Regions from separate parts of the Homo sapiens genome. Here region 2 is linked to region 1. Evidence: fine-mapped QTL for protein levels in blood plasma. A gene starts in region 1. The other region holds a variant in brackets. All regions are shown on one strand. Distances are between the middles of the regions. Region 1 holds the start of SEMA3E (semaphorin 3E). Region 2 has its middle 12 kb from the start of SEMA3E.

Region 1 (2,923 bases):
CTCCAACTTAATCTGAAGGATGAGATGTAAAACCAAAGACAGATCTTGGCATTCATAACATATATTCTCTTGTCAACACTTTAGAGGTGCATATTTTGTGTACTAATGAAATGATTGTAATGTCTCACATTGTCTCAGTTCTATAGTAGAGTTAGGACAGGCACTATGCAATCTTAAGTAGAATTTCAGCTATGTGAGAGTAGCCATGAATTTGCAATAAAAGGTGTAGGCACCACATTTACTTTTCCTATAATCCTACTATTAGATAACACATATAAGAGCTGCTATTTATTTTGTCATTTGTTTCCATCCTAGAAGAAAGCAAAAGAGAATTTTGAAGGTACAATGTATCACATTTAGAGCAACCTTTAGGTCTGTAGCTCATCAGACTGGCTTTTAAAATATGCAAGCATTCCAGGTTAAAAGTCTCTAAATAACTTCATGTCATTTTACTGTTAAATAATGTTTAGAGTTTGCTATCTTTTGTAGACCTTGGAAATCTAATTATTTATAATGTCCAGTGACATTTACATTTTGCTAAATATACTCTGCTTGTACAAGAACATCTCATGATTAGAAAAATGGGTAGAGAATGCCTGGCTGTACATATGCTTCTATATAATGCAAAAATATCAGGGTGACACATGTTATCTTTTTGTTATAGTTTCGTGATTTTAAAACATAATTCTCAAAAAGTTTTTAACTATTAGCATTTAAAATACAGAATAAGAAAAAGTTATCATAGTTGAGATCAGTGTTTACCATTTAACTCTCCACTATCAAATCAAATATCTATTCAAGTTTATTGGTATCTTAACATAATACCATTCATTTCCATGCCAACAGCTCCTGAGTGTTTGGCTTAGTTTTTGAGATTGATTGAAGGTAGATTGTAAAGTTGACCTATTGTGTTAAGCTTATTTACACAAACACAGTGCCTTGGAAAATCAACTCTGGAAGTCCATAGCAGTTGAATCCTAAGGTATTGCACATCCTAAGTTTTCTAATACCTGCTTTATAGAAATCCCTTGGGTGGTGAATCTCAACTTTGCCAGTTACCTTACCTGGGGGAAATTACTTCAACATTCCTAAATTTGAAGTAAAATTTAGGAATTGCTTTAGGACAAAGGATTTGCCTTTAATTTCATTTGACCAATTTGCTTAAGTAAATAATTTATCATTTCTATCAAATTTATGAGACAGTCACAGATGAACTTTTTTTTTTCAGGCTCTTGAAACACACTTTTCTTAAAAGAGTTTAAAAATAACATCCCTAAGATATAAGCAATAGAAAAAGACTTAATTTTGAAAAAAACCTTATGGCAACAGTGAAAAACAGAATTTGGATTCTGGATGGTTACAAATAGATTATTTTCAAAAGAAGTTGGATTTATTCAACTTAGGTCAATTTATCTTGGTAAGAATTTAAAAGCGCTTTCTGATGCCACATCCTTGTCTGTCACCTATTCTTAAATAATCAGTCTATGTCATCACCCCTCCCGAACTCCCCATTTCCCCCATCAAAATGTGGACTTCTCTCCTGCTGCTGAGTAACGTGGGGCTGGTTATGACTGGGAGGGAGGATGGGAGCGAGGCACGTGGACCAGAAATACTTCCTAGAAACAGCAAGTACGCTGCTCAACCCTGCCTGAACTTTCCTGTAAACAGCCACTGACAGACTGCATCCCTGCTGGGTGGATCCTGCGACTCCTAGAGGGAATGGCACTTCTTGTTTTTAATTAGCAAGGTGAAAGGTGAATTAAAACTAGCAGTTTGGCAAGTCAGTGCAAGAGGCTGACTTCTGAGAGGCTTCCAGGAGCCCGAAGAGAGGACCTCCACGGGAGAAGGGAGTGCGTGTGCTCGGTTTTGTTTTTTTCTCTCTTTTTTTTTTTTTTTTCTGAATGAACAGCTTTGCCCAAGTGACTGAAAAATACAGCTTCTTCCTGAATCTACCGGCGTAGTTGCTGAAGAGCGCTCTAGACAGGACATGGCTCTGAAGACTCACTCTTTGGAATGTCCTCTTGCTCCCGGCTTATAAACAACTGTCCCGAGGAAAGAAAGGTTTTACATAGCCAAATACAGCCTGACAAATGGCACTTCGGAACTGTGCTTTCTGATGACAACGCGTTCGATTTCTGACAAAGCCTCTCGCACGCTGCCCCTGGAGGGAAGTCCTAAGTAAAACTCAGACCCTCCTTAAAGTGAGGAGCGAGGGCTTGGACGGTGAACACGGCAGCATGGCATCCGCGGGGCACATTATCACCTTGCTCCTGTGGGGTTACTTACTGGAGCTTTGGACAGGAGGTCATACAGCTGATACTACCCACCCCCGGTTACGCCTGTCACATAAAGGTAGGTTACCTTTCCAGATCCTTTTGTTTAAAAAAAAAAAAAAAGAAAAAGAAAAAAGAAAAAAAAAGTCGTTTAACATTAACATAGGCTTATGGTCTTCAAAGACCTTTAAAATGCACCTGAAAAATTTATTGCAAAACTGACCTAAAATTCTAAGTACCTCTGATTAATGTGTCATACTCACCTCATCTGAAAACAGTGCAAAATCACATGTCAACTTAGAGATGTTATTTTTGTCTGTAAACATTGGATTTTATCAATAAGGAGTTCACTCACTAGCCCGCGGAACACAGGAAGGGAGGAAGCAGGTTGAAAATAGCCTTGAGAGGCTGAATCCACCAAGTTAACAGTAGATATTTAAATATCAGTTTATGCATATGAGAAACAAGGATGCTGGGAAAGGGCTATAGAAATAGGGGTGCAATTTGTTCTTTTTGTTTTTGTTTTGTTTTGTTTCCATAATGGAGGTAAGAGGAGAAAATAAAAATCCCGAGGAGAAAAATGATGCCCTACCCATAACTGTCATCATCATGTAATTAAAATGATTAACAACTAATATAAATTAGTTTTC
Region 2 (2,923 bases), 11 kb before region 1:
GGAGAGTAGGTCTTGGACAGAGGGAAATTATTATAGACCATGGACAATCTTGACATGGAAGTTATAGGCCATTGGTTTCTTAGTTTTTCTTTTTTATTTGCATATTTTTTATGAGAGCTGAATAATGAGCAGTGATTTGTGACATGAAAGCATCACTCACCTATGTAGTGATGTGATGGGATCAGCAGCCTGACAATAACAATTTGAAAAGAAAGATGAAGTATAGAAAAAAGAGAGTAAAGGGGACGTTAAAGAATGCTTTGCTGTAACAGGGAAGAGGCTGTCGAGGAGATAGATAGTATAGAGAAAAGGAGTTTGAAGGAAGATTGCTGTTTTTCTTTTTAATATGAAGACTTGAGCACATTTATACATCTACTTTAAAAAGAGCAATTGAAAGAGAAAGGGGACAAACAATTTGTAATGTACAGTTCCTAAGAAGGGGGAAGAAATAGAGTTCAACCTATAGCTAGAAATATCAATGGCAGATGAAGGAGGGATACCACATCCCTCCTTAATCAACAATTAATCAACAGAAATGTGTGCAGGAAACAAAAGCATATATGCAGTTACGTTTTTAGCTTTTTCTATGAAATAGACATCTAGGTTATATGCTATAAATGAGGAAAGATTTTGCGGAAGGGTAGCTTACACATTTGAGAAGGAATGTTTTGGGAAAAAGTACCAAGAAGAGTGAGACTATGAGTTTAATAGCTAAAGATCCTAAATTTGCTAGACAGTGAAGAGAGCCCAAGTGAGTTACTGTTTATACCTTCAGTGTAATATCCATCCTCCTTGTCATGACTTTTTGAGACAATGCCTAGCTACTTTCTGTCTAGACATAGAGAAAGCAGAGGTATTAGTCCGTTCTCACACTGCTATGAAGAAATACCCAAGACGAGGTAATCTATAAAGAAAAGAGGTTTAATTGACTCACAGTTCTGCATGGCTGGGGAGACCACAGGAAACTTACAAGCAGGATGGAAGGCACTTCTTCACAAGGTGGCAGGAGAGAAAAGGAGTGCCAGATGCTTATAAAACCATCATATCTTGTGAGAACTCACTCACTATCATGAGAACAGTATGGGGGAATCACCCCCATGATTCAGTGACCTCCCACCGGGTCCTCCTCATTACCTGTGGGGATGTGCCCTCCATCCTGATTGTAAGTTTCCTGTGGTCTCCCCAGCCATGCAGAACTGTGAGTCAATTAAACCTCTTTTCTTTACAGATTACCTAGTCTTGGGTATTAATTATGGGATTAAAATTTAAGATGAGAATTGGGTGGGGACACAAAGCTAAACCATGTCATTAGATAATCATGTTAATCCAGAGCTTGTGTTTTGCCTGATGGTTGAAGAATAAGAGAGAGGGACTAAGTAGTTTAGGCTATTGGCAATAGCATTATTGAAATAGGGAAATGTTAGACTCTCAGCAGGATAAGGAGAAAGTAAAGATAAGAGAGGCTGATGGATTGAAAGAAAGTCAAAAGGTAAGTAATCTAAAGGTTCTGATGAGATAATAACTTTCTTTTATTCTGAAAGAGTATACTGTCTTTCTGCAGAGGTCGTTCATTTCATTAATGAGAATAAAGAGGTATTAGGTTGCTACTTACATCTCTTCAGCAGTACACAGGAGACATTCTGTATTTACAGCAATGCTTTTGAAAATATGAAACATTAGGAATAATACAAGAGCTAAGCTATTTCAATCCTGAAAAATCAATTATGCTTTTTATGTTATTGTCATAAGTACCTACAGGAGGCAGGTTTGTTTTTTTTTTT[C/T]TTTTTTTTTCGGAGTCTCGCTCTGTTGCCAGGCTGGAGTGCAGTGGCACGATCTCCATTCACTGCAACCTCCACCTCTCGGGTTCAAGTGATTCTCCTACCTCAGCCTCCTGAGTAGCTGAGACTACAGGCGCACACCACCATGCCCAGCTAATTTTTGTATTTTTAGTAGAGACGGGGTTTCACCATGTTGGCCAGGATGATCTCGATCTGTTGACCTTGTGATCTGCCCGCCTCAGCCTCCCAAAGTCCTGGGATTACAGGCATGAGCCACTGTGCCCAGCCAGGAAGTAGTTTTTAAGGAAAAAAAAATAACCCACTGTTCAAATGGTACAAATAAAATAACTAACATATTTATAAACTTTCATGCAGACCTTTTCATAACCCAAAAATTGAAACAGGAAAACCTATTTAAATATTTGAATATGCTAACATTAACATGAAGAACATATAAAAATATAGAAATATTTGTATATAAAAAGTTTGAGTATAATCATATGGGTTTCAAAATATGTATTCTACTTAAGTTAGTATTACTACATCTATGATACAGGTGATAGAAAATAATGCTCAGAAAAAGTTAAATATTTTGATCATGGGCATCACTGAGCCACATAGTATTAAACCAGGATTCAACATATGCTCTTTTACTCTAAATATTGGTTTAAAAAATTCTTTCCAGCTAAAATCATTATTACAGATACTTGTAGATAGTTGAAATTAGTGTTTAGCATTATACATTACAATTAATTATATTCAGCATTTATTTTCTTAGTAATTGTACTTTCTTAACTTTTTGACTTCCAATAAAAATTTAGAGTTACTACGAGTAAAACATGTATTTCTGAGGGATGAGCTTTCTAGCCAGAGAAAACAGCATGCACAAAGGCCCTGAAGTGGGAGAACGCTTACCTAGGTTGAGAATTATCAAGGGACTCAATGTGTCTTGAATGGGGTGAGGGAGAAAGAAAATGATAGATAAGGTCAAAGATATAGTAGGAGTCCGCATCAAGAAAGACTTCCTAGACAACTATAAGGATTTTATTTTTATCCTAATTGACATGGAGCAGAAGAGCATTTGTGGGAAGGGACCTAGATGTGTTCATTTATTTAGAGGGTGGAAGTAGGTTTATAGATGGAGG

Evidence for each region. PIP is the posterior inclusion probability: the model's chance that the variant is causal. Sun 2018 read protein levels with aptamers (SomaScan).
Region 2: its variant is fine-mapped to the plasma level of the SEMA3E protein (Sun 2018, PIP 0.95).

Annotation. Positions count from the first base shown.
Region 1 is chr7:83,647,857-83,650,779 of GRCh38, reverse strand. SEMA3E (semaphorin 3E) reads left to right here and starts at 1,641. Exons shown (of 17, transcript NM_012431.3): 1 at 1,641-2,352. The coding sequence starts at 2,238.
Region 2 is chr7:83,659,234-83,662,156 of GRCh38, reverse strand. No RefSeq gene overlaps it. Among named protein-coding and RNA genes, the nearest start is that of SEMA3E, 12 kb to the right of the region's middle. The variant C/T (reference allele first, on the strand shown) is at 1,782.